Linked DNA regions of Homo sapiens: regions 1, 2, 3, 4, 5 and 6 are each linked to region 7. The links come from fine-mapping of genetic effects on gene expression. A gene starts in region 7. Each other region holds a variant in brackets. All regions are shown on one strand. Distances are from middle to middle. Region 1 has its middle 57 kb from the start of OR13A1. Region 2 has its middle 14 kb from the start of AGAP4. Region 3 has its middle 34 kb from the start of TIMM23. Region 4 overlaps ZFAND4 (zinc finger AN1-type containing 4). Region 5 has its middle 39 kb from the start of MSMB. Region 6 has its middle 36 kb from the start of MARCHF8. Region 7 holds the start of NCOA4 (nuclear receptor coactivator 4).

Region 1 (4,068 bases), 770 kb before region 7:
ATTAGCAGCCACCAGGGATCCTAGAGGGACATTGGTCTCTAGATGGCTTTGTTCATCTCCTAATGATGTCTGGCGTGTCTGGAGTCTGCCCGTTGGTCCTGGTGGATCCTGACTGGTGTCAAGAGACAGTCCAATGTTAAACACATGAAAAATAATATTTATTCTACTTAGGTGGACAACAGCAAGGAGCAGGAATCAGAAAATAATTGCTGTGGTCAAGTCATACAACCCTTCTTTTTTTTTTTTTTTTTTTTTTTTTTGAGACGGAGTCTCACTCTGTTGCTCAGTTGCTCAGGCTGGAGTACAGTGGCACAGTCTCACCTCACTGCAACTTCCACCTCCTGGGTTCAAGTGATTCTCCTGCCTCAGCCTGCTGAGTAGCTGGGATTACAGGCATGTGCCACCATGCCCAGCTAATTTTTGTGTTTCTAGTAGAGACGGGGTTTCACCATGTTGGTCAGGCTGGTCTTGAACTTCTGACCTCGTGATCTGCCTGCTTGGCCTCCCAAAGTGCTGGGATTACAGGCATGAGCCACCGTGCCCAGCCATAACCCTTCTTTTTATATTTTGGTTGTCATTCCTTAAATATATTTGCACACATAATTAAAGTGTAACTATGATGCTTGTGTAATAAATTTGTATTTCCAACAGGCCCAATTAGCAGCCACCAGGGATCCTAGAGGGACATTGGTTTCTAGGTGGCTTTGTTCTAGATGAAAGTGTAACTAGTGAACTGGAAGGGTCAGAATATATTCCTCCCTGGACTGACCACTTAGCATGGCATGAAGGGAAAAACAAATTCAGCAAAGGTCAGAATGGCCCAGATGGAGTTTGTCTGTGACTCTTTTAGTCTAACTCACTTCGGAGGGCTGCAGTTGGGGCCACAGTATTTTTCCTATATATGGTATTATGATTCCCCCAAGATGGAAACAAACCCTAAGACATGATGAAGAAATACTTTTTGTGGGATGACAGACTTAAATGACCTCAAGTTTTTTTTAAGTTACACATTTATTTTTGCAATATTCATCTTGTGACTGCATGTCATGAGTGGTATCTTCTCAGCAATGTGTTACATGATCAGATACGTAAGTAAAAGAAGGGATTTTTTTCCTGCTTGGCAATAAACTGTATAGGAAAATGACTAATACTTTTAAAATTACATTATCCTTTATGAAGACTAATAGCTACATGCACAGTTATTTTGGGCTGCATGTAATATAAGTATATTCATAGATAAAAATCATAATGTTTACATAACAAAAATTACATAAAATATAATGTTTGAAAATAAACAAGTCCAATTGCCACACGGATACTGTTTTACATGTTTAATAAAATAAAGTTCTCCATTCTTTAATCATGACACTGTAAAATAGCTCACTGAAAATTGATTGAAGAAATGGAAAACCAATGATGGGAGAAGCAAGGAACAGGACAGTAGTCCAGGAATTTATCCTGGAGGGATTTCCTGCTGTCCAGCATCTGGGGAATGTCCTTTTCCTGGTGCACCTGCTGGCATACCTGGCCTCCATCATGGCAAACATGCTCATAATCACCATCACCTGGGCTGACCATCACCTCCAGACACCTATGTATTTCTTCCTCAGCAGTTTTTCCTTCTGTGAATGCTGTTTTATCACCACAGTTATTCCTAAACTTCTGGTCATCTTTCTTTCAGGCAGGCAAATAATCCCCTTTACTACTTGTCTCATGCAGTCCTTTTCATTTTTATTTCTTGGGTCAACAGTTTTCTTCCTTATGGCTGTGATGTCCTTGGATTGATACCTGGCCATTTGCAAGCCTCTGCATTACTCCACCATCATGAGCCTGAGGACTAGCTTCCACCTGGTCACTGCCTGCTTTGTCGTGGGCTTCACTCTCATCACTGGTCTCATGGTGAAGGTTTCCCAGTTATCTTTCTGTGGACCCCATGTCATCCCTCACTTCTTCCGTGACCTCGGCCCTCTGATCCAACTCTCCTGTTCTGACACCAGATCTACTGAAACGTTGGCCTTTGTCCTTGTTTCATTCGTTCTTTTTACATCCCTCATTATAACCATCATTGCATATGGCAACATAGTAGTCACAATTGTACGACTCCCATCAGCCAAGGAGCGGCAGAAAGCTTTCTCCACCTGCTCCTCTCACCTCATTGTCCTCTCTCTGGTGTATGGCAGCTGTGTCTTCATATATGTGAAGCCGAAGCAAATGGACAGGCTGGACTCCAACAGAAAGGCTGCTCTTGTGAACACAGTGGTGACCCCACTGCTGAACCCGATCATTTACACTCTGCGGAACAAGCAGGTCCACCAGGCTCTGAGGGATGCTCAGTCCAGAATGAAATTGTAAAAACAGAATCACAACCTCCCAGTGAAGGAATGCACCTTCTCCTTGATCTAATCCAATCTTTCTCCTGTTTCTGGAATCCTTTATAAAAAATTTGCAAATATGTTTTTTTTAGGTTCTGTTTGTTTTTTCTTAGAATAAGGGCTAATT[GTCCCTC/G]TCCCTCTCCCTCTCCCTCTCCCTCTCCCTCTCCCTCTCTTTCCACGGTCTCCCTCTCCCTCTCTTTCCACGGTCTCCCTCTCATGCCGAGCGGAAGCTGGACTGTGCTGCTGCCGTCTCGGCTCACTGCAACCTCCCTGCCTGATTCTCCTGCCTCAGCCTGCCGAGTGCCTGCGATTGCAGGCGCGCGCCGCCACGCCTGACAGGTTTTCGTATTTTTTTGGTGGAGACGGGGTTTCGCTGTGTTGGCCGGGCTGGTCTCCAGCTCCTAACCGCGAGTGATCCACCAGCCTCGGCCTCCCGAGGTGCTGGGATTGCAGACGGAGTCTCGTTAACTCAGGGCTCAATGGTGCCCAGGCTGGAGTGCAGTGGCGTGATCTCGGCTACAACCTCCACCTCCCAGCCGCCTGCCTTGGCCCCCCAAAGTGCCGAGATTGCAGCCTCTGCCCGGCCGCTACCCCGTCTGGGATGTGAGGAGCCCCTCTGCCTGGCTGCCCAGTCTGGAAAGTGAGGAGCCTCTCTGCCCGGCCGCCATCCCACCTAGGAAGTGAGGAGCGCCTCTTCCCGGCCACCATCCCATCTAGGAAGTGAGGAGCGTCTCTGCCTGGCCGCCCATCGTCTGAGATGTGGGGAGCACCTCTGCCCCGCCGCCCTGTCTGGGATGAGAGGAGCGCCTCGGCCCGGCCGAGACCCCGTCTGGGAGGTGAGGAGCGTCTCTGCCCAGCCGCCCAGTCTGAGAAGTGAGGAGACCCTCCGCCTGGCAACCGCCCCATCTGAGAAGTGAGGAGCCCCTCCGCCCGGCTGCCACCCCGTCCGGAAGGGAGGTGGGGGTCAGCCCCCGCCAGGCCAGCCGCCCCGTCCGGGAGGGAGGTGGGGGGTCAGCCCCCCACCCGGCCAGCCACCCTGTCCGGGAGGTGAGGGGCGCCTCTGCCCGGCCGCCCCTACTGGGAAGTGAGGAGCCCCTCTGCCCGGCCAGCCACCCTGTCCGGGAGGGAGGTGGGGGGGTCAGCCCCCGGCCCAGCCAGCCGCCCCATCCGTGAGGGAGGTCGGGGGGTCAGCCCCCCACCAGGCGAGACGCCCCGTCCGGGAGGGAGGTGGGGAGTCAGCCCCCTGCCCGGCCAGCCGCCCCGTCCGGGAGGTGAGGGGCGCCTCTGCCCGGCCGCCCCTACTGGGAAGTGAGGAGCCCCTCTGCCCGGCCACCACCCCGTCTGGGAGGTGTACCCAACAGCTCATTGAGAACGGGCCATGATGACAATGGCGGTTTTGTGGAATAGAAAAGGGGGAAAGGTGGGGGAAAGATTGAGAAATCAGATGGTTGCTGTGTCTGTGTAGAAAGAAGTAGACATGGGAGACTTTTCATTTTGTTCTGTACTAAGAAAAATTCTTCTGCCTTGGGATCCTGTTGATCTATGACCTTATCCCCAGCCCTGTGCTCTCTGAAACATGTGCTGTGTCCACTCAGGGTTAAATGGATTAAGGGCGGCGCAAGATGTGCTTTGTTAAACAGATGCTTGAAGGCAGCATGCTCGTTAACAGTCATCACCACTCCCTAATCTCAAGTAC
Region 2 (4,068 bases), 170 kb before region 7:
GTTCATGAATACTTCAATAAAATAAAACTAATAGCAAAAAAGAATTCCAGAGTTGAAGCAGTTTCAGGAAAAAGGAGTTGGCAGTATGAAGTAAAATAGAAAAAAATGGGTTTTTTTTTAAATGGGTATATTTGTGTCTACAACTTTTTTTTAATTATAGCATTAGACAATGTGTATATATATATACATATATAAAGCAATGGAAGTGGCATTGTTTTCATACTAGTCTAGGATATTAAAATATATGTAATATGTGATTGGCAAAATAATGGCCCCCCAAAGATGTCCACAGATTCCTAGAACCTTACATGAAAACGGTACATCATGCATGTGATTCAGGTAAAGACCTTGACATGAGGAGACTACCCTGGTGCTATGGAATGAACGTTGTGTTCCGTCAATGTTCATGTGTTAAAATCCTAACCCTCAAGGTGATGGTATTAGGAGGTTAAGCCTTACGGGAGACTCTGCCCTCATGACTGGGATTAGCACCTTATTACAGGCACAAGGGAGCTTGTTTGTTCCTCTCACCATGCGAAGACACAGCAAGAAGGAAGCCTCTATGAGAAAGCAGGCCTTCACCAGACACCAAGACTGCCGGCACCTTGATCTTGCATTTCTCAGCCTCCAGGACTGTGAGAAACGAAGTTCTGTTATTTATAAGCTACCTGGTCTAATGCATTTCCTTGTAGCAGCCTGTATGGATTAGGACAGTGGGCTCATGTGGATGATGACGGTGTGTCCATTCAGGACTAAGTAAGCACATGAGTCCTTAACAGTGGAAGAGAAGGGGGAAGGAAAGAGCCACAGAGACATGTGGCCACAGAAGAAGGGTCCATGGGATGCAAGGTTGCTAATGGTGAGAGTGGAGAAGAGCCCAAAGCCAAAAAATGCAGGCAGACTCCAGAATGTGGAAAAGGCGAGAAAAAAGATCCCCTAGAGCCTCTAGAGATGAAGGTAGCCTTTCCACCACCTAGATTTTAGCCCAGTGAGATCCACATCATACTCTGACATACAGGAGTGTAATAAATTTGTTTTATGCCCTGACATAGTGGTAGTTTGTTGTAGCAGCAATGGACTAGTAATATATAAATATATATATACACACACACACACAAACACTACCCCCCCACCACACACACACACACACACACACACACACACACACACACACACACATAACTATATATATCCTACCCTTCAAAATTGAAGCAGATAAACTACACATTAGCATTAACTTAGCTGGGTGTAGTGGATCATGCCTGTAGTCCCAGCTACTCAGGAGGCTGAGAGGGAGGATCATGTGAGCCCAGGAGTTTAAGATCAGCCTGGGCAAACACACTGAGGCCACATTTCAAAAACAAACAAACAAACAAAACACAACAAATCTTTGATTAAGCTCATTTCCCAAATTTGAAGAGGAGACAATTATTAGATAAAGAGGAGAAAAGAGAAAGGTAGAGCTGCTGACTTTTGTGGCGGAAGCAGAGGCACAGGCCCAAACATACTCCTTTCCTCCTGGCTTTCCTGTCCCTTCTCATAAGGGACACATGAACCTCTCAAACTGAACCATGGATCACAGACCCATACTCAGAACTCAATACAGTTTTGTTCTATGATTTTTTACATGTCTGTGTCCTTGCTTCTGCCTCCCATTCCCAACTCCCTTACTCTAGTTAGAAAAAAATGGCTATTACCAAATATGAGTACATCCTCATATACTAATGCCAACTGATCATCACCTGGTTTTCTTCTTTTACAAAGTCATAAATCTTTAGACTTTAACACATCTTCCAAGCAATAGAATGTTATTTTCCAGTCCATTAACACAAATTCTATATTTAAAATGAAGACTTCACAAGTTGATTTAAATAACATATTAACCAACATAGACTGGCCATGGTTCAAACTGACATTTTAATTAAATGTGATGATAGGTTGAGTAACCTAGCAGTACTCTAAAATGACTTTTGGTTATGGCTTTTTCCATATTATGTTTAGGCTGAGGCATCCCTAAATGATTCAACTGTAATTCCTCTTCTTAAACATGAGATTTATCTTTACAAAATAATTTATTTTCTTAAAATTACAAGTTAATTCTATAGTTCATGCATACATAATCTCAGCAGATATCAGCTGTATGTGTACACACATACATATAGGTATTTGTATATACACACATTACATAATTTTTTTAAAAACTTATTAGTAGGGTAGAACCACGAAGACAAAGAGGCTTTGTGTAATGTGATGGAAACACATTTGCAGGACGAACAACAGGCTGCTGTGAGGGCTGCATTTACCCTTTCTACTGTAAGACTTGGAAAAACATGGATAGTGGATATTTAATC[C/T]GCATAACAGAAATTTCAGGGTGCAGAAAACTTCCCACAATTTTTACAGACAATGTCAACAGACAGGCATTCAATGCAGGGAATACACAGTGTGACAGTATACAAAAATAAGCAGGTTGATGGTTTAGATTTATGAGACAAGAGAAAGAAATAGATGATGCCATAATTCTCCTTTTATGGAGTTATGAAAATTGTTCATTTTATATAAGGTCAGGTGCTTTCAAATGTCAATGAGAAAAATATTTAAAGGAAGAATCAAATCTAAGACGTGGAGAGATCTTTATAAAAATGACCTTCAGGCCAGGCACGGTGGCTCACACCTGTAATCCCAACACTTTGGGAGGCCAAGGTGGGTGGATCACAAGGTCGGGGGATCGAGACCATCCTGGCCAACATGGTAAAACCCCGTCTCTACTAAAACACAAAAAATTAGCCGGGAGTGGTGGTGTGTGCCTGTAGTCCCAGCTACTTGGGAGGCTGAGGCAGGAGAACTGCTTGAACCCGGGAGGCAGAGGTTGCAGTGAGCTGAGAGCACCACTGCACTCCAGCCTGGCAACAGAGCAAGACTCCATCTCAAAAAAAAAAGAAAAGAAAAAAAATTACCTTCATTCTGAGAAGGTATAATCATCAACACATTCTTGAGCAAAACTACGCACATACACACTTCCAAATTCACAAACCATGCTTGTGCACACACTGATGTCTCTAGATTCCTTTTTTGAAGAGATGGCAACTTGGTGTGTCACCCAGGCTGGAGAGCAGTGTTAGGATCATAGCTCACTGCAGCCTCAAACTACTGGGGTCACGTGATCCTCCTACATCAGGCTCCTCAGTAGCCTGAACTATAGGAATGAGCCACTATGCCCAGCCAATGTTTTCATTTTTTTGTAGAGATGAAATCTTGCTATATTGCCCAGGCTGGTCTTGAACTCCTGGCCCCAAGGAATCCTCCTGCCTTGCCCTCCAAACGTGCTGAGATTACAGGTGTGAACCATTGTGCCCAGCAACTGTATTCTTTATTAAGAAGAAAATTTGTTTGCTGACATGTAGGCAATGAATTGATAAGTAATAGTTCAGAAATTACTAATTTACAAGTCAATATAAATGAGGTGAGTAAACACAAAAATAACAGCATAAATAAACAGTTCATGACTTCACGTTTCTTTTTCTCCTTTAAAATGTAGCTCTGACAGAGACTACTACTTGTCCATTCCATGGAAAAGTCAGAGGTGGTTAAAATGTCAGAGGTACACTTACTAATACTTTGATGCCTTTTGTGTAGCTTCTTCTCAGTACTTCACCAGCTGGGATTGACACACCTCTACAGGTGGGTTCAGGAGCCAGACAGCAGCACACAGAATGGGGAATCCAAAGCCATCTCTGACACTAAAAGCAATGAAAACAAAAATAACCAAACATATTATCAAGAAATGAACAAGAGATTGATATCAAGTAAAGCAAGAAGAGAAGAAAGCATTTAATCTGCCAGGCTTTCATTCTGACAAAATAATTTACAACATGCATGTCTCTATCTGACATGAGTGAATAGAAAAAGAACCCAAATACCCAGTTGAATTGCAAGATGAAAATGAAAAAGAACTCTTGCTTATTCGCCAGGGTACAATCTAATCTGGGCTACTAAAACACTTTCATGCACTGATTCTATGTAACACATGCTTTATTGCCATTTGGAAATGGGATTTCTTGCTTTGATTTA
Region 3 (4,068 bases), 92 kb before region 7:
CAAAGATGGGCAGATAACAAGAATGGGAAGAGGGAATATAACCAGATGGCAAAGGATTCAAAGGAACGAAGACTGTTGGAAGCTGGTAGGTACTTTCCCTGAGGCTGTGATGCTGCTGCTTTTTTTTTTTTTTTTTTCCCAGTAGAAACAGGGTTTCACCATGTTGGTCAGGCTGGTCTCAAACTCCTGACCTCAAGTGATCTGTCCGCCTCAGCCTCCCAAAGTATTGGGATTACAGGCGTGAGCCACATGCCCAGCCATGTGGTTCTAAATGATGCCAGATCTAAGGCTATGGGCCATTAAGGCCGACTTTTGCTAGAGGGTTTTCTTCTTCTTTCTACCTTGAATTCAAATATTTGAACTTATTGGGCCTCCCTAGTTTTACTCAATTAGTTTTTATGATGAATCTTCCCTTTTCCCTAGCCATTTTCAATTGACCTAATGTTTGGGTAGTATGTTTAATCTGATTCAGCTTCTTTCCTAGGTGCTATGTCAAAGACCGACTCTGACAGCATGTGCCACAGTCCATAGATAAAAATGAGATGTCAGTTACTTAAACTCCCTAAACCTTGGTTTTCCATTCTTCATTTGTAAAACAGAAATATTAATAGCATCTAACTCATGAGGTGGTTGTTAGAATTAAATCAGATAAAGCATACTGCTGACACTATAGTTGGTACATAGAAAACTCTCAGTAATAAGCACTACCACCTCCATCGCCAAAGATAACCAAATAAGATGATCCAGCAAACACAAAGAAGATATGTACAGGGAGGATCTTGTAGAAGAGGTGAGTCTGGGATGAGACAGGCCTATGCCTGCAACAGATAGAAGTGTCCAAGAGAAGTGAGGCTGGAATAGTCTGCAACTTAAGCAGCAGGCATGGAAGAAGGAAAGGATTACAAAGGGAGACAGGAGCCAACTATCAGGAAAGAGGCTATGCATATGGTTACTTAAGGCAGTGAGCAGTTCCAACATTGCACTCCCAGTGGAAGATGCCCTTTGTTTATCTTAGAGCTAGGCTTCTCAGGACTGAGGCAGATTAGACCAAGAGCAAGACCTCAATACATATCACTTTGGAGTTCATTTGAAAATATTCCATATTTCATTATGCTGGAAATGGCCCTTGCTGCAGAAAATGTCTTTTTGTAACACTTTTCATGTAATCAAAGAGCATTTGTGGTGACAAGGCACTATGTCACTCAGCGTACTAAAAACTTTGTTAACACACTATAAAGAAAAATTATTTAGCCTGCTTAGAATCTGACAGACTCTTGTAGTAAATCATTACCTGTCATTATCATCACAATAAATCGAGGATGAGTATTTTTCTCTACTAGTACTAATAGTAAAATAAGGAGAAACACCATTGGCTTAGTCTTTGGTAAACCACAGCACTAACAGCACCCCCTCATATAAAAGGACCAATGGACCTATTTAGTCTTTGATGAGCAAGTTTACCGCTTGTTTAGATAGGCTACACACTGAAACAATATATAAATTTGAAAAACAGATCTAACGTTCTGTTTTTATTTACTCATTATTTTTACCTTCAGATAAAAATACTACAATAGTCCTTCCAGGGTTAAATATGCAATGTTACATGTAGATAAGTGTTCAAAGCATACTCAAAAGGACTACAGAATTTATTTTTATGAGTAGGAACATAAGAAGAATAAATGCAAATTAACAGGAATTATAAATCAAGGCATCATGTTTAACTGTGTTAATAAAATACAAACAAAACAAAACAAAACCCAAAACACTTCAGAGCTAGCTGATAGAGATATAAATCATGGGCAAGATTAAAACACAGAATTATTTTCACTCCTCTAACAGTAGATTTTTGGATAATGAAATCAACACCACAGCAACATTTAAAAAGAATAACTTCTACTGCTATTTGACACAAATGAAGGGTTAGAGTTATAGGACAAACTAAGTACTAGCTTAATTTCATTATTAGAATATAAGAGAAAGTCTACTGAATGAATTTTCACTTTTGAGTATCTATAACTTCTAACCTCTTTGTCCACCACATAAATAAATACAATCCAGATAGTGTTTTGCAAACACAAAATAACAACTCCAACTTCATCAGTGATCTAGTGCATAGAGGGCTCAACTAAGACTGATATTCCATGGTAACTCATCAAGTTTATAAAAGCAAAGTGCCTAGTTCCAATTGGAGTAATCTGTCCTTTGGGATATGCACTATTTAGAAATCATAAATCATAAATATGAGACCCTCAACATATGTCCCCATTCAAAAGCACTCATTAACCAAACCAGGGAGAGAAATTCCACATATTCCATAC[A/G]AATCTAAAAGTCACAATTGATCTGTTTCAATATTTTAGTGATTCTGATTAGCTCCCTTTTGGCTCCTATAGTTCTCATGAATTAAATTGAGCTGTAAAGTAATGCAGACCTTATGATTCCAGAGACTGTGAGTCACCAAGGGAAGAGGTCCAAAAAGGTTAAATTTCCACTGAACTCCAAATCAGAGGTTCGAAAGCTAGAGAGATAAAGACATTAGCTTTAGTCTTATGAAACATTCAAGGCTGCTTTCATTTGATTAGGAGTTTGGTACAGGCTCTTTGTGACAAATATAACAAAGACACTTGATATTTTTTAAGCTTTGAAGAAAATCCCAGAAAACAGATTATCTACGAAGAATGTTAAATCAAGCTAAGTAATAATGTGTTTATATACATTCAGAAACTTACTTCAGTGTTATCAAAAAACCAAACCAAAACAAAACAAAAAATGACCACCAAAAGGCTATCATGGAAGGAGGCCACATTCCTTCAGTTACTGAATAACGAAATCTGTTGTGATTTAAAAAGGTAGTTATAACAATTTACCGCCTTAGGTCAGCTTTTCCCAAACTATTCTAAAAAGCACTAACCCTACATGAAATGTTTATAGACAGTCTGGGGATAAAGGGGTGGGGATAGGAGGAATGAAGAGAGAAGAAAGAAAAATCCTCTAACAATATTTTTGTTCTAAAATTTTTAATACACAAAAATACTGAGTATATTTGATACAGTTAAAATTACCATGAGATAAGCTACTCATAATAGCATGCCACACCTCAGAAAGCCAGGATGTCCACAGTATACCACATATGCTTGAATGCATTGATGCTCAAGTGATGCATAAACATACAACTATTGTGTTTTACGTTATTGAATCATAGCTGATTTGTGCTGTGATTTTTGCCTAATAATTTCAACATATATTTTAACTTTTTATTATATAATAAAGGCATAAATCAAAACTTAATTTCTTCCAGCCATTACTTTGTGTATGTGAAATAACTTTTTGTAATCTATTTTAATACAAGTTTATGTTCTTTTTTCTGAGTTTCTACTGATGCTCTGTCAATACATTATCATTTTTAAAGTTTTCCATAATCACAAGTTCAAAAACTGTTATTTTAGCTAAACACAGCTATAATAATACATGCCTCAATTTTGGAGACAATGAATTATGTTGTACCTGTTTTTAAAATTTTAAATGGCCTTTCTCTTTCTGCCAACTTGGAGCCTGTGGAGGCCTGCTGGGAACAGGAATACTAAAAGGAAGTATGTCTGGAAGGCTGTGGTCCAAGGCCATTTTTGCTGAGTATAAGTGGGGTCTCCAGAACCAAAGACAGCACACAGCTCTTTTTAAAATAGAAGGTGCTTATGCCCAAAATGAAACAGAATTCTATTCGGGCATAAGATGTGCTTATATATACAAAACAAAGAACAACAAAGTGACTCCTGGTGGCAAACCAAACAAAATCAGAGTAATCTAGGGAAAGGTAACTCGGTCCCAGGGAAATAGTGGCATGGTTCACGCCAAATTCTGAAGCAATCTTCCTGCTAAGGCCACTGGACACAGAATCTGTGTGATGCTGTACCCCTCAAGCATTTAAATTAATGAAAAGTAAATAAATAAAAGTGGATTTGTGCTCTTGGAAAAAAAAGTAAAAAAAAAATTTAAATGACAGAAACAGTTCTGAAGAAAAAGACAGATGTAATAACATGATCAACTTAATTTGCATCATTCAAAACTCAATAT
Region 4 (4,068 bases), 360 kb before region 7:
AACAAACACATCAGTATATTTCTGTAAGGCTTTGAAAAATTTATTCATATCCTTTTCTAAAACATACAAATTATGTCTTCTATACCATATAAAGCATAACTTTACAACGATTGTACATTTGACTTTTTTTTTTTTTTTGACAGAGTCTCGCTCTGTCGCCAGGCTGGAGTGCAGTGGCACAATCTCGGCTCACTGCAACCTCCGCCTCCCGGGTTCAAGCAATTCTCCTGCCTCAGCCTCCCAAGAAGCTGGGATTACAGGCACCCACCACCATGCCCAGCAGATTTTTGTATTTTTAGTAGAGACGGGGTTTCACCACGTTGGCCAGGATGGTCTCGATCTCTTCACCTTGTGATCCACCCGCCTCGGCCTCCCAAAGTGCTGGGATTACAGGCGTGAGCCACCATGCCTACTCCTGTTGTATATTTGAATCATACTGGATAAAAGGAATGCCAACCACCATAATAGGTTGCTTAAAAATAGTACTCACTAGGCTGGGGGCTGTGGCTCATGCCTGTAATCCCAGCACTTTGGGAGGCCGAGATGGCAGATCATGATGAGGTCAGGAGATCGAGACCATCCTGGCTAACATGGTGAGACCCAATCTCTACTAAAAATACAAGAAAAAAATGAGCTGGGCGTGGCGGTGTCTGCCTGTAGTCCCAGCTACTTGGGAGGCTGAGGCAGGAGAATGGCGTGAACCCGGGAGGCAGAGCTTGCGGTGAGCCGAGATTGCGCCACAACACCCCAGCCTGGGCAACAGAGCAAGACTCTGGTCTCAAAAACAAAAAAAAGTAGTACTCACTAAATCATCAACGGTTTCCAGAGGATATTATAGCATTCAGATGACATTAGAATTGGTAATAAGTATTAGACAATCTCTGCTCACATACATACAATGGCTAATAAGTATGAGTGGTAAGCCCAACAAATAGAAGTAGTAAACTAAATGACAAGTATAGAACTAGGAGCACAAAAATGATCAAATTGCTATTGCTATTAATCGTGAAAACTCTATACAGGGGGGCCTTGAACTTAAACTAGGACAAATGATACACATCTTTCTGGTGAGGTGGTTAAACCTTTTTAAAAATAGCTTTATTGAGGGCCAGGCACAGTGGCTCACACCTGTAATCCCAGCACGTTGGGAGGCCGAGGTGGGCGGATCACCTGAGGTCAGGAGTTCGAGACCAGCCTGGCCAAAATGGCGAAACCCCATCTCTACCAAAAAATACAAAAATTAGCCAGGAATGGTGGCGCACACCTGTAGTCCCAGCTACTCGGGAGGCTGAGGCAGGAGAACCGCTTGAGTCCAGGAGGCAGAGGTTGCAGTGAGCCAAGATTGCACCACTGCACTCCAACCTGGGTGACAGAGCAAGACTCCATCATTAAATAAGAAAAAAAAAGCTTTATTGAAATATAATTCACATGCCATAAAATTCACTCATTTAAAGCCTAAAATTCACTGGTTTTTATGATGTACACAGAGTTGTGCAACAATCACCACATTTGCTTTAGAAAATTTTCATTACCTCTAAAAGGAACCCCATACCCTGTAACCAACACTCCCAAATTCCCCCAGTCCCCCACTCAACCCTAGGCAACCACTAATCTACTTTCTATCTCCAAATTGGTCTATTCTGGACATTTCACATAAATAGAATCATATATGATTTTTTTGTGACTGGCTTCTTTCACTTAGCATAATGTTTTCAAAGTTCATCATGTTCTAGGATATATCAGTATTTCACTCCTTTTTATTGCTGAATAATAGTCCCCTGTAGCAATATATCTCATGTTGTTTATCCATCCATCAGTTGATGAGCATTTGAGTCGTTTCCAATTTTGGGCTGTTACATATAGTGCTAAGATGAACATTCAACTGCAAGTTTTTGTGTAAACATATGTTTTCCTTTCTCTTTGAAGTAGCTTTGCTAGATAATGTGGTAACTCTTATGTTTGGCAATTTGTGGAACTACCAAACTGTTTTCTAAATGGTATGGATCATTTTATAGTCCCATCAACAATGAATGAGGGTGCCAATTTCTCCACACCCTTGACAATACTTGTTTCTGTCCTTTTGATTAAAGCTATCCTAGTGGGTGTGAAGTAGTATCTCACTGTGGTTGACTTCCATTTCTTTAAAAACTAATGATATTGTGCATCTTTTTTATGTGATTATTGGCCATTTGCATACATTCTTTGGAGAAATGCCTATTCATATACTTTGTCTATTTTTTAATTGGATTTTTTATTGAGTTGTATGAGTTTTTATATTACATATTCTAGATAAAAACACTTAACAGATATATGAATGGTAAATATTTTCTCTCATTTTGTGGGTTGTCTTTTGATAGTATCTTTTGAAACACAAAGGTTTTTAATTTTGTTAAACTCTAATTTGG[C/T]TATTTTTCTTTTATCATACTTAAAAAGCTTGGCTTAACCCAAGGTAATAAAGATTGACTTATATATGTTTCTAAAAATTGTAGTTTTAGCTCTTATGTTTAGGTGTACTGTCCAATTTCAATTTAGTTTTGTGTATGGTGTGAGGTAGAGTCTAACTTTATTCTTTTGCATGTGGATAACCAGTTGTTCCAGTATCATTTGTCAGAATTACCATTCATTCCCAATTGAATTGTCTTGGATCCTTGTTAAAAACCAATTTACTGTAAATGTGAAGGTTTATTTCCAGACTCTTTATTCTGTTGATCTACCTATGCCAGTACCACCACATCTTAATTAATGTAGCTTTGTAGTAAGTTCTGAAATCAGGAAGTGTGAGGCCTCCAATTTGTTCTTTTTAGATTGTTGGCTATTCTGGACTCCTTGAATTGCCATATGAATTTTAAGTATGCCCATTTTGCAAAAATGTCAGCTGGGATTTTGACAGGGATTGTATTAAGTCTGTAGATTTGGAGAGTACTGCAATCTTAATACTAAGTCTTCTAATCCATAAATACATACTATTTTTCAGTTTATATCTAATTTATTTCAATGTTTTATAATTTTTAAAGCACAAGTTTTGTTCTCTTTTATTAAATTTATTCCTAAGTATTTTATTCCTTTAAATGCTATTACAAATGGAATCACTGTCTTATTTACAGATTGCTCATTGCTGGTTTATAGAAACACAACCGATTTTAATATCTTGATCCTGTACACTGCAACTGTGCTGAACTGTTTATTTCGTTCATTTAGTTATTTAAATCTTCCTAAACGCTCTCTATAAAAGCTCTATATACAAGATCATGTCATTTACAAATAGAGTTTTACTTCTCCCTTTCTAATCTATATGCTCTTTTCTTTCTTTTTTTTTTTTTTTTTTTTTTTGGAGGGGGTGAAAGTCCCACTCTGTTGCCCGGGCTGAAGTGAAATGGCACGATCTCCGCTTATTGTAACCTCCGCCTCCCGAGTTCAAGCGATTCGCCTGTCTCAGCTTCCCAAATAGCTGGGATTACAGGCACCTGCCACCACACCAGGCAAATTTTTGTATTTTTAGTAGAGACAAGGTTTTACCAAGTTGGCCAGGCTGGTCTCGAACTGCTGACCTCAGGTGACCCACCCACCCTGGCCTCCCAAAGAGCTGGGATTACAGGCCTGAGCCACTGCACTGGGCTTATTTCCCTTTCTTGCCTAATTGCCCTGCTCTGGAACCTTCAGTACAAGATTGAATAAAAGTGGTGAGACTGGACATCCTTGTCTAATTCTTGATTGTAGAAGGAAACCATTGAGTCTTTAGGTATAATGTTAACCGTGGGGTTTTCATAGATTACCAATATAAGGTTGACGAGCTTCCCTTCTATTCCTGCTTTAGGTGGGTTTTCTTTTTAATCATGAAGGGGTGCCAATTTTATCAAACGCTTTTTTCATTGTCTATTGAAATAATCATTTGGTTTTCTTTACTTTTTTATTCACATATTACATTACTTTTTATGTGTCAAATCAATCTTGCATTACTGGGGTAAATCCCATTTGTACCTGGTATGTAATCCTTTACATATGTTGATGGATTTGATCTGAAAATATTTCCTCAGGATTTCTGTGTCTATAATCACAAGAGATGATGAT
Region 5 (4,068 bases), 55 kb after region 7:
CATGGTGGTGGGCACCTATAATCCCAGCTATTTGGGAGACTGAGGCACAAGAATCGCTTGAAACTGGGAGGCAGAGGATACAGTGAGCCGAGATCACGCCATTGCACTCCAGCCTGGGTGACAAGAGCGAAACTCCGTCTCAAAATAAATAAATAAATAAAATCTAAAATTTCGAAGGTAAATTTCGCATGTGGAACTTTACTTTTCAGATACTGATTGATAATGCGTGATACTGATTGATGTAATGCGTAACAATTTTCCAGCTAGACAGAAGTAAATTTTCCATAGCTTGGCTGGGCATGGTGGCTCACACCTTAATCTTAGCAATTTGGGAAGCCAAGACGGGAGGATTGCTTGAGCCTAGGAGTTTTAGACCAGCCTGGGCAACCATAGCAAGACCTCATGTCAACTTTTTAAAATAAAAGAATAAATTTTTTAAAAAAATATATATCTCCTTCAGCTCTTATAGGGGAAAGAACATGGGTTTTGTTTTCAGGAAGACCTGGGTTTAAATCCCAACTTCACTAGTCACTATTTGAAGGATCTGGAGAAATTGTTTACTCTCTTTGAAGTTCAGTTTCCCTCTCAGGGGAGCAGAGATGATAAAATCTTCATCACAAGGTTGTCACAAGGATTACATGCAATAACATACGTAAAACTCTAATCTGGCATTTAAGAGATGTGATTTCCTTTTCCCATACTGGTATGCCCTCTTTTTTTTTTTCTCTTCGTGTATCAGTCAGAGTCCTGCTAGAAAAAAGATTGCAGAGCTGTAACATGTAGAACCAGGACCGTTTTCAAAGTTGTAGATGTTTATGGGATGGCGATGTTCCCAGAGGCTTGCAGTAACAGGGAGCCATTCTCACCTGAGCAGTAGGGATGGGACCCATCATCAGAATCTGGGGAGAGAACTGTGGCCAGGGGAGAGGGAGGGCCCCTGACAAAAGCTTTGGTAAAGGCATACCATTATTGCTAAAACCATGGCCTGTTGGGGAAGGAGCCAGGGAAATCCAGGCCGCAGGCTCTCTCTCCTCCTACATCAACAGCTGCTGCTACCTCCATCAGCCTAACCCAGCTCGAGGCCAGGGGGAGAGGTGACCTAAGTGATGTGGTCTGTAGAAGTCGTCCTCCCAGGGCACAGAGCAGGGTGGGGAGGAGTAGAATGGATCTAAAAAAACAGTCCAAGACTATCCAGCACACATGGATGAAAACCTTAATGCAAAAGGCAAAAGCAGGTCATGGAAGTACAGTTAACTGAAAGGGATTTTGTGAGGATTTGGAGTTTTCCTGTGATGACTCAGAGTAATTCCAGGGAGTACATGTATAAATAACGCGCATCTTGCACCAGTCTGGCTTTGGGATGCAGAGAGCACACAATGAAAACTGCTCTACAAGGGCCAGCCTTGCTGTAGCTTCACACTCCTCCACACTTTAGAAAACCTGCAGGTGACGGGCAGGGTGGATGAGTCTGATGTTTCCTTCTGCACCCCATGTCCACCAGAAGTGGCTCCTCCAGGCTCTGCAGGCTGAGTCCATAGACTCCCGGAGAGTTGGTACTTCGCTGACTGAGGCCCCACGTCACAGGGGTGGGCCAAGGTCAGTGAAACCCTGCACACGTTCAAAGAAGCTATTTCCACTTATCACCACCACGGGGGAGAAACAGGAATGTTTCCCCTACTGTGAAATGAGTAATGAATGGACGAATAAATATTTCCAAATAGCATACTCTTCATGTAAACCTACCTTGCTAAAATAGCTGAAAAAGTTTAAAACACATACACACATTTCTTTTTTAATGTTTTATTTTGGTCAAATATATATAACATAAAATTTATCATTTTAGGCCAGGGGCGGTGGCTCATGCCTGTAATCCCAGCACTTTGGGAAGCCGAGG[T/C]GGGTGGATCACCTGAGGTCAGCAGTTCGAGACCAGCCTAACCAAAATGGTCATAAGAGTTGAAGGAGATATAGAATTTTTTTAAAATTTTATTTTTTTGTTTTAAAAAGTTGAAATGGGGTCTTGCTATGTTGCCCAAGCTGGTCTCAAACTCCTAAGCTCCTATGGCTTTTTTTTTTTTTGAAATGGAATCTCTCTCTGTTGTCCAGGCTGGAGTGCAGTGGCGTTATCTGGCTCACTGCAACCTCTGCCCTCCAGGTTCGAGCAATTCTCCTGTCTCAGCCTCCCAAGTAGCTGGGATTACAGGCGCCCACCACCATGCCATACTAAAAATTTTGTATTTTTAGTAGAGATAGGGTTTCACCACATTGTCCAGGCTGGTCTCGAACTCCTTGACCTCAGGTGATCCACCCGCCTTGGCCTCCCAAAGTGCTGGGATTACAGGCATGAGCCACCACACCTGGACCCCTTCTTTCAATTATTTTTGGTAGATACCTAGAAGCAGAATTGTGGGATCATATGGTAATTCTATGTTTAATGTTTCGAGGAGCTACCATACTGTCTTCCACATCGGTGTGCCATTTAACATTTCACCAATAGTGCACAAGGGTTCTAATTTCTCTACATCCTTATCAACACTAGTTACTTTCTGTTTAGTTATTTTTGATTTTTGATAATAGTCATCCTAATGGGTGTGAAGTGGTATCTCAACATGGTTTTGATTTGCATTTCCTTAATGATTAGTGATATGGAGCATCTTTTCATGTGCATATTGTCCATCTGTGTATCTTCTTTGGAGAAATGTCTATTCCAGTCTTCTGCCTTTTTTTTTTTTTTTTTGAGATGGAGTCTTGCTATGTTGCCCAGGCTGGAGTGCAGTGGCATTATCTTGGATCACTGCAACCTCCACCTCCCAGATTCAAGTAGTTTTCTTGCCTCAGCCTCCCAAGTAGCTGGGATTTCAGGAATGCACCACCACACTCAGCTATTTTTTGTATTTTTTGTAGAAACGGAGTTTCACCATGTTGGTCAGGCTGGTCTTAATCTCCCGACCTCAAGAGATCTGCCCACCTCGGCCTCCCAAAGTGCTGGGGTTACAGGTATGAGCCACCACACCCAGCCTTCTGCCCTTTTTTTTTTTTTTTTTTTGACATGGAGTCTCGCTCTGTTGCCCAGGCTGGAGTGCAGTGGTGCAATCTCGGCTCACTGCAAGCTCTGCCTCCCGGGTTCATGCCATTCTCCTGCCTCAGCCTCCCGAGTAGCTGGGACTACAGGCGCCCACCACCATGCCCGGCTAATTTTTGTATTTTTAGTAGAGATGGGGTTTCACCTTGTTAGCCAGATGGTCTTGATCTCCTGACCTCGTGAATGGCCTGCCTTGGCCTCCAAAAGTGCTGGGATTACAGGCGTGAACCACTGTGCCCGGCCTCTGTCCATTTTTTAATTGGGTTGTTTCTTTTATATAATTTAGTTGTAGGAGTTCTTTATATATTTTGGTTATTAATGCCTTATCAAATACACGATTTGTAAATATTCTCTCTCATTCTGTGGGATGCCTTTTCACTCTGTTGATAGTGTCCTTTGAGGCACAAAATTTTTCAGTTTTGAGGAAGCCCAATGTAACTGTTTTCTCTTTTGTTGCCTATCCTTTCGGTGTCATATTGAAGAAATAATTGCCAAATCCAATGTCATGAACCTTTTCCCCTATGTTTTCCTCTAAGAGCATTACAGTGTTAGGACTTAATTTAGGTATTTGATTCATTCTGAGTTAATTTCTGTATCTGGTGTAAAGTGAGGGTCCAACTTCATTCTTCTGCATATGGATATTTAGTTTCCACAGCATCATTTGTTGAAAAGACTGTTCTTTTCCCATTGAACGATTTTAACACCCTTGTCATTTGACTATATATCGAAGGGTTCGTTTCTAGGCCTTCTCTTCTATTCCATTGGTCTATATGGCTAGCACCACATGATTTTGATTACTGTAGCTTTGTAAAAAGTTTCTTTTTTTTTTGAGACAGAGTCTCGCTCTGTCACCCAGGCTGGAGTGCAGTGGTGCAATCTCGGCTCACTACAATCCCCGCCTCCTAGGTTCAAGTGATTCTCCTGCCTCAGCCTCCTGAGTAGCTGGGATTACAGGCGCGCACCACCATGCCTGGCTAATTTTTCTATTT
Region 6 (4,068 bases), 460 kb before region 7:
TCAAATTTTTCGCTACTCTGTACATGTCTATGAATGACCACGGGAACACTTCAAGTATTGATTTAGGGGTTACAAATAAAATTTGCAATTTTCACATGTATGGAATCCTCAAATAATGAGGATCAATTGTGTATCAAGGAGACTAAATATTCCAATTAAAATGTAGCTTTTTTTCAGATTGGGGAGAAGAAAAAAACAAGACCCAATTATGTCTACAAGAGATACCTTTTGAATATAAAGACACGGGTTAAAATAAAGAGGATGGAAAGATAAACCACACAGCACTAATAATAGAGTGAAAAGCACAACACTTTCCACAACTGACACAAGATAAAACTTTTAAAATCTAAACAGCCATGTATTTATTAAGTTAAAATACTCAGCCTACCCTTTTACAAAAAGAAGACTCAAAACTCAGATGGTTTCACTGGTGAAGTCTATCAGACACATGTGGAAGAAAATAAAGGAGTAAACAATTCCCAATTCATTTTAGAAGGTTTGCATAAACCCATTACCAAAATATTTTTCATTTATAAAAAAACTATAAAACATGACCATAGGTGATTAACACAGATGAAAACATCCTCAGCAAAACAATGGAAAGATCAAAATCAGTAACTTACAAAAAGAATAATATATCATGATACTGCAGTATTTATCCCAGGAATATAAAATTTGGATTCACATATAAAAGGCAATTTCATTTACTATAATACCAGATGCAATGAAAGCATTTGACGAAGTTCCATATCCATTCCGGGTTAAAAAAAATAAAAATTTTAGCACACCTACAAACAGAAAGAAACTTCCTCTATCATATAAACCTTCAGCAAATAATGAAATTCTGAGGACTTTCCCTCAAAGATTGGCAACATGGCAAAGATAGTGATAGAAATCGCAGCAAGTCTACTCAACATTATATTATATAGAAGATCCTAGCCAATGTAATAGGCAAGGAAAAGAAATACTACGCATAAATATTTGAAACGAAGTTATAAAACTTTCTTTTCAGAGGCAATATAATTGTTAACAAACAAATTTTTAAGAATTATGTCAATCTAACAAGATTCATTTAAGTAAGTTTGGCAAAGTTGCAGGATGGCAGGTCAATAAACAATTGTATTTCTATATTCCACCAACAAAATGAAATTTTAAAAACGTTTCTCAATACCAAAAAGCAGATTACTTAAGAATAAACTTAACAAAAGATATGGAAGCCCCATATACTGAAAACCACAAAACACTGCTGAAAGAAATACCTAAGTAAATGAAGATATATACCATGTTTGTAATTCGAAAATTTCAACACTGTCAAGATGTTGATTCTGCCCAAATCACAATTCCAACCATATTCCCACCAGGCACTTTTATAGAAATTAGGCTTTTGATTCTAAAAGCCTATGAAATATAAAAGTATATGAAATATGAAAGTATATGAAAATTCAAAAGACCTAGAACGGCCAAAACAATCTTAAAAAAGAACAAAGTTGAAGGAGTTAATGTCAGGCCTCTGAGCCCAAGCTAAACTATCATATCCCCTGTGACCTGCACCTATACATCAAGATGGCCTGAAGTAACTAAAGAATCACAAAAGAAGTGAAAATAGCCTGTTTCTGCCTTAACTGATGACATTACCTTGTGAAATTCCTTCTCCTGGCTCATCCTGGCTCAAAAGCTCCCCCACTGAGCACCTTGTGACCCCGACCCCTGCCCACCAAAGAACAACCCCCTTTAACTGTAATTTTCCTTTACCCACCCAAATCCTATAAAATGGCCCCACCCTTTCTCCCTTTGCTGACTCTCTTTTTGGACTCAGCCCACCTGCACCCAGGTGATTAAAAAGCTTTATTGCTCACACAAAGCCTGTTTGGTGGTCTCTTCACAGACGTGAGTGAAATTTGGTGCCGTGACTCGGATCGGCGGACCTCCCTTGGGAGATCAATCCCCTGTCCTCCTGCTCTTTGCTCTGTGAGAAAGGTCCACCTACGACCTCTGGTCCTCTGACCAACCAGCCCAAGCAACATCTCACCAATTTTAAATTGGGTAAGCGGCCTCTTTTTACTCTCTTCTCCAACCTCTCTCACTATCCCTCAATCTCTTTCTCCTTTCAATCTTCGCGCCACACTTCAATCTCTCCCTTCTCTTAATTTCAGTTCCTTTCCTTTTCTGGTAGAGACAAAGGAGACATGTTTTATCCGTGGACCCAAAACTCCAGCACCAGTCATAGACTCAGGAAGACAGTCTTCCCTTGGTGTTTAATCACGCGGGGACACCTACCTGATTATTCACCCACATTTCATTGGTGTCTTATCACCGCGGGGACGCCTGCCTTTGTCATTCACCCACATTCCCTTGGTGGCAAGTCAATTGCAGGGACACCTGCTTTGGCTGCTCACCCACCCCTTCTCCACTTTCCTGGGGGGCAAGCACCCCTTACCCC[TTCTC/T]TCTGTGTCCCCACCCCTTCTCCACTTTCCTGGGGGGCAAGCACCCCTTACCCCTTCTCTCTGTGTCCCCACCCCTTCTCCACTTTCCTGGGGGGCAAGCACCCCCTCACCCCTTCTCTGTGTCTCTACCCTCTCTTTTCTCTCCACTTTCCTGGGGGGCAAGCACCCCCACCCCTTTTCTCCATGTCTCTACCCTCTCTTTTCTCTGGACTTGCCTCCTTCACTATAGGCAACCTTCCACCCTCCATTCCTCCTTCTTCTCCCTTAGCCTGTGTTCTCAAGAACTTAAAACCTCTTCAACTCACACCTGACCTAAAACCTAAATGCCTTATTTTCTTCTGCAATATTTTCTTCTGCAATGCCACTTAACCCCAATACAAACTCGATAACGGCTCTAAATGGCCAGAAAACGGCATTTTCGATTTCTCCATCCTATAAGACCTAAATAATTCTTGTTGTAAAATAGGCAAACGGTCTGAGGTGCCTGACGTCCAGGCATTCTTTTACACATCGGTCCATCCCTAGTCTCTGTTCCCCAATGCAACTCGTCCCAAATCTTCCTTCTTTCCCTCCCGCCTGTCCCTTCAGTCCCAACCCCAAGCGTCTCTGAGTCTTTTGAATCTTCCTTTTCTACTGACCCATCTGACCTCTCCCCTCCTCCCCAGGCTGCTTTTCTGGTAGAGACATAGGAAACGTGTTTTATCCGTGGACCCAAAACTCCAGCGCTGGTCATGGACTTGGGAAGACAGTCCCAAGTCTTTCCATTTTTTCCTCAGCCTCCGCCCCGCCACCCTACAATCCTTTTATCACCTCCCCCTCCTCACACCTGGTCCAGCTTACAGTTTCGTTCTGCGACTGGCCCTCCCCCACCTGCCCAGCAATTTCCTCTTAAAAAGGTGGCTGGAGCTAAAGGCATAGTAAAGGTTAATGCTCCTTTTTCTTTATCGGACCTCTCCCAAATCAGTTAGCGTTTAGGCTCTTTTTCATCAAATATGAAAAACCCAGCCCAGTTCATGGCCCATTTAGCAGCAACCCTTAAGACTCTTTACAGCCCTAGACCCTGAAGGGTCAGAAGGCCATCTCATTCTAATTATGCATTTTAACACCCAGTCAGCTCCTGACATTAAATAAAACTCCTAAAATTAAATTCCGGCCCTCAAACCCCACAACAGGACTTAATTAACCTCTCCTTCAAGGTGTACAATAATAAAGTAGAGGCAGCCAAGTAGCAATGTATTTCTGAGTTGCAATTCCTTGCCTCCACTGTGAGAAAAACCCCAGCCACATCTCCAGCACACAAGAACTCCAAACACCTGAACTGCAGCTGCCAGGGGTTCCTCCAGAACCTCCTCCCCCAGGAACTTGCTTCAGGTGCCGGAAATCTGGCCACTGGGCGAAGGAATGCCTGAAGCCCGGGATTCCTCCTAAGCCTTGTCCCATCTGTGCGGGACCCCACTGGAAATCCAACTCGCCCAGCAGCCACTCCCAGAGCCCCTGGAACTCCGGCCCAAGGCTCTCTGACTGACTCCTTCCCAGATCTTCTCAGCTTCGTGGCTAAAGACTGATGCTGCCCGATCACCACAGAAGCCTCCTGGACCATCACAGATGCTTTAGGTAACTCTTA
Region 7 (4,068 bases):
GGGACTCTCAACCGGGGGAGGGATATGTGTCAGGATATCCTATGGAGTTTTATGAAACCCCTACACCGGATCCTGAGATTCTGGCACAGCTATACTGATTTAATAAAAAAAAAAAAAAGGGGGGGGTGAGGGGTACTATGTAGTTCTAAAATATCTTCTCTCCCTTTGAGAAGGACATCTTCCTCCCCTTCCATAGCTCAACATGTTTTTCCATTTCCGAAATGCCTGTTTGCACAAAGGTAATAATGTAATTGTAGAGATTTATTTAGATAAAAACTACCACAAAACTTTCAAAGAGTAGGATTTTCCTTAGAGACCCAAGGACAAAGGCTCCCTGGAAGGCAGGAAAGGAGAAAATGAAAGGAACGTTATTGTGCTGGACTTTACATACATAATCTCATTTACTTATCTGAACAAATCTGCAAGCTAGCAAATCTTCAAATGAGAAAACCAAGTAAATTGCCTAAGCCACTGCATCCTTAGGGTAAGTCTTTCTCAAACGGTCTCAAGTACTTTAAAGTTTGGAAATGTCACACTAGGATCTCGGTATAAAAATGGGCCAACTATGACTTCCTGTGCCATCCTCATTCCAATAAGTAACTCAAGAGTCTCTATAAACTTAGTTCCAAATTACCAAGTGCGTGGTGGAAAGCTAAGTCCATCCAAAAGGCAATTACTGTGGTGAACCCGACCCTGATTAGAAAGTGACACAAAAAGGCACAGTTAAAAGTAAAAAAGCTCTGCCTTTGGGGTCAGATAAATTCAGCACTCTGACTTCTGTCATTCTACTTCTGCCATTCTTGATGGCATCATTCCATGTTAAATCCCGTGCCACGTAAGATTATGATTATTGTTTTCCCCACAACAAGAATTTAGTTCCATGAGAATTAGGTGTCCATTTTTTTCATTGCTATCCTCAACATCCTGAACATACAGGCACCAAATAAATGATTGCTGGTGGAATGAACCAATGAATGAGCAAGCCTTACTCTTCTCAGCTGTAAAACAGAGATAATCAAGCTACTTTTCGGGATTATTGGGAGAATTAAATGTGACAGTATGTGTTTGGCACACAGAGGGCCAAAAAAACCCAATATCTTCTTTGCATTTCCACCTGACAAGCTAGAAATGGATTATGTTCTGTGCCCGTCCGGCAAAACAGACCTCGCCTCGCCCCACATCCAAGCAAGAGGCGAGAGAAACAGGAAACTTGGAGCTGTCACACCTAAAGAGAGGGGAAGGCCGGCGGGGAGCAGGAGGTGTCCGAGCCGGGTGTGAGGAGGGTCGGGGAGGAAAGGACAGGCCCACGGCCGGGCACGAGGAGGGTCGGGGAGGAAAAGACAAGCCCGGGCCCGGCGTGTGGCGGGAAGGCGAGAACGTAGGCCCGGGCCCGGCGTGTGGCCGGAAGGGGAGAAGACAGGCCCGGGCCCGGCGGGCAGGCAGGAAGAGGTGCCCGGGCCTGGCGTGTGGAGGGGAGGGAAGGGAAGGAGAAGGCAGACCGGTCCCGGTGTCGGTCGGGTCGGGAAGGGGCGGACAAGCCCGGGCCCAGCGGGCCAGCGGTCATCGAGCCTCCACCCGGCCCACAGCGTTCTTACCAGGTCCGAGTGCCTCTCCAGGCGATCCGAGGAGACCTTGGGTGGACTGAGACACGGCCCCACACTAACCTACGGCCCAAAGGCAGAGTTCTCGCGACAACACAATCTTCCTCCCACACCTCTCGCCATACGTCTGACAGTCTCGCGAGATCTCCGCTCGGGTCAGCCAGAAGCCCTTGACTGCCCTCTAGGAGGCGCAGAGCGCAGGCGCACACTCCCTCCCCGCCCTTGCAGTGTCCTTTAGTCCTTCGTGAATAAATCGAAATTAAATGAAGCAAATGCTTTTTTGAAGGCAAATTTGGTGCCAAGGACCATCCTAAGTGATTCAGATGGCCTCACAAGGTAGATATTATTTAGTTTGAACATTCAGATGCAAAAATGAATATCGTAAGACACAAAAGGCCATATGTTGTATGATTCCACCTTTGCCACATTTGTTTTTCTAAGGATTGAGTTAATAGGCCGGGAGCAGTGGCTCACGCCTGTAATCCCAGCACGTTGGGGGCCGAGGCGGGCGAATCACGAGGTCGGAAGATGGAGAGCATCCTGGCTAACACGGTGAAACTCCTTCTCTACTAAAAATACAAAAAAATTAGCCAGGCGTGGTGGCTCGCGCGTATAGCCTCAGCTATTCGGGAGGCTGAGGCAGAACTGCCTGAACCTGGGAGGCAGAGGTTGCAGTGAGCCGAGATCGCTCCACTGCACTCCAGCCCGGGCGACAGAGCAAGACTCCGTCTCAAAAAAAAAAAAAAAAAAAATTGAGTAAATAAATAAATGGCAGAACCCAGATTCTTTTTTTCTTTTCTTTTTTCTTTGAGACAGGGTCTGACTCTGTCGCTCAGGCGCAGTGGCGCAATCTCGGCTTGCTGTAACCTCTGCCTCCTGTGTTCAAGCGATTCTCCTGCCTCAACCTGCTGAGTAGCTGGGATTACAGACATGCGCCATGATGCCCGGTTTTTAAATTTTTTTGTAGAGACAGGGTCTTGCTGTGTTACCCAGACTGGTCTCAAAGTCCTGGGCACAAGCGATCCTCCCACCTGATCTAGGATTACAAGCATGAGCCACCACGTCCAGCCTACAGCCCAGATTATAACCCACATTATTTACTTGTGACTAGATGTTAAATAGCACTTCTTTCTGTCTCAGTTTTGACAGAGGTCCTCCATACTCAGTTGCCAACTGCTTCCCCACATTCCGCAGCAAAGGAGGTGATCATAGCAGGGTTTTATGGATCTCATCCAAGAGTGACTCTGCTACAAGGGGCAAGGCAACCTCATTAGAAAACAATAGGAGACATAGATTACGATGCAGAAGCTAAGATAACAGTCATAGGCTGTGAGTGGAAGGGGAGCTGTGGAGAGAGAAGCCCACAAAAGTCCCATGAGGAAGTCAGCCTAGAACATGACCTCAGGCAGAAGGAGCCCTTAACTCTCCTGTCCCCCATTCCCTCTCAATTCAGATGCAGCCCCTGGAATGAGACTTTGTGTAACTCAAAATGTAACTCAGACCACTTTTTTAAATTATCTGAAGGTGAACAAGAAAGCTAAGGGACCTGTCTAGATTGCTCAACTGGCCCACATAGCATGTTTAAACAGATAGGGGACAGGGGAAAATAAAGCTCTTTATCAGTTGCCCACTGATTGTTCAACAGATGACTGTTTGCTCATTTCTGATCTGTCACGTACACACAGCTGAGTCCAAGCCCCAGGAGAACAGGGTTCTCTCCTGAAATCTCTCTGGTTCACTGCTGTATCCCCAGGTCTAGAGCACTGCCTGGCCCAGGTGCTCAGTACAGACCTGTTGAGTGAACAGATGTTCTTTAACACAGAAACAGTTAAAAGAGAATCAATGTTGTCGTTGTCTTAAGCCACTAAGTTTTCGGTGGTCTGTGTGTAGCAAGAGGTAGCTGATGCTGGGGCCTTGCACCCAGGCCACTCTCCATCTGCAAGGCAGAGCCCCTGGCCTTTAATTCCCCTCGGGCTGCATGTGGTCTTGGGGGCACTTTCTTCAGGCTTGTTCTAAGCTGTTTTACAGGCTTGTTCTAAGCTGTTTCTTGTTCTAAGCTGCTTTGACCTCAAGCAAACACAGAGGAATGTGGGGGACACATCATAGAAGACACTTCCTGATGAAGAGGAAGGAGGGATAAACAGGAACACCGTAAAGAAAAGAAGGGATCTAATTCCAGCTTGAAGACACACATTTTTTTCATCGTTCACCAGACAGCAGGACACGGGCAGCAGAGTGCAGACATCAGAAACAGTAAGAGTGGCAGTGGTCCCCTGAGTAAGGGATGCACAATGACCTATTATAGAGTTTAGGAAAAATAGAACTTTTATTCATATGTATTTTGTTTTGTTTTGTTTTGTTTGGGTTTGGGTTTGTTTGTTTGTTTGCTTGTTTTTTGAGACGGAGTCTCACTCTGTCACCCAGGCTGGAGTGCACTGATGTGATCTTGGCTCACTGCAACCTCCGC

What was found. PIP is the estimated chance that this variant, and not a neighbour inherited with it, causes the effect. A credible set is the group of variants that fine-mapping cannot tell apart.
Region 1: its variant is the best candidate, but not a certain one, in a credible set for the expression of NCOA4 in whole blood (INTERVAL, PIP 0.65).
Region 2: its variant is the best candidate, but not a certain one, in a credible set for the expression of NCOA4 in whole blood (INTERVAL, PIP 0.73).
Region 3: its variant is the best candidate, but not a certain one, in a credible set for the expression of NCOA4 in T cells (TOPMed, PIP 0.58).
Region 4: its variant is the best candidate, but not a certain one, in a credible set for the expression of NCOA4 in whole blood (INTERVAL, PIP 0.72).
Region 5: its variant is the best candidate, but not a certain one, in a credible set for the expression of NCOA4 in blood mononuclear cells (TOPMed, PIP 0.84).
Region 6: its variant is the best candidate, but not a certain one, in a credible set for the expression of NCOA4 in whole blood (INTERVAL, PIP 0.55).

The regions. Positions count from the first base shown.
Region 1 is chr10:45,256,772-45,260,839 of GRCh38, forward strand. It overlaps the pseudogene OR6D1P. Among named protein-coding and RNA genes, the nearest start is that of OR13A1, 57 kb to the right of the region's middle. The variant GTCCCTC/G (reference allele first, on the strand shown) is at 2,500.
Region 2 is chr10:45,859,378-45,863,445 of GRCh38, forward strand. It overlaps the pseudogene PARGP1-AGAP4 and the pseudogene PARGP1. Among named protein-coding and RNA genes, the nearest start is that of AGAP4, 14 kb to the left of the region's middle. The variant C/T (reference allele first, on the strand shown) is at 2,352.
Region 3 is chr10:45,936,933-45,941,000 of GRCh38, forward strand. It overlaps the pseudogene PARGP1-AGAP4, the pseudogene PARGP1 and the pseudogene RPL35AP23. Among named protein-coding and RNA genes, the nearest start is that of TIMM23, 34 kb to the right of the region's middle. The variant A/G (reference allele first, on the strand shown) is at 2,319.
Region 4 is chr10:45,664,152-45,668,219 of GRCh38, forward strand. The region is part of intron 1 of ZFAND4 (zinc finger AN1-type containing 4); the gene reads right to left. Among named protein-coding and RNA genes, the nearest start is that of ZFAND4, 6.6 kb to the right of the region's middle. The variant C/T (reference allele first, on the strand shown) is at 2,406.
Region 5 is chr10:46,083,446-46,087,513 of GRCh38, forward strand. No RefSeq gene overlaps it. Among named protein-coding and RNA genes, the nearest start is that of MSMB, 39 kb to the left of the region's middle. The variant T/C (reference allele first, on the strand shown) is at 1,895.
Region 6 is chr10:45,569,674-45,573,741 of GRCh38, forward strand. It overlaps a transcript of MARCHF8 not described here. Among named protein-coding and RNA genes, the nearest start is that of MARCHF8, 36 kb to the left of the region's middle. The variant TTCTC/T (reference allele first, on the strand shown) is at 2,441.
Region 7 is chr10:46,028,931-46,032,998 of GRCh38, forward strand. NCOA4 (nuclear receptor coactivator 4) reads right to left here and starts at 1,693. Exons shown (of 10, transcript NM_001145263.2): 1 at 1,596-1,693. It overlaps LOC105378287 (a long non-coding RNA gene), which reads left to right and starts at 1,845. Exons shown (of 3, transcript XR_945923.4): 1 at 1,845-1,937; 2 at 3,659-3,854. RefSeq lists a silencer at 1,219-1,308 and an enhancer at 1,669-1,738.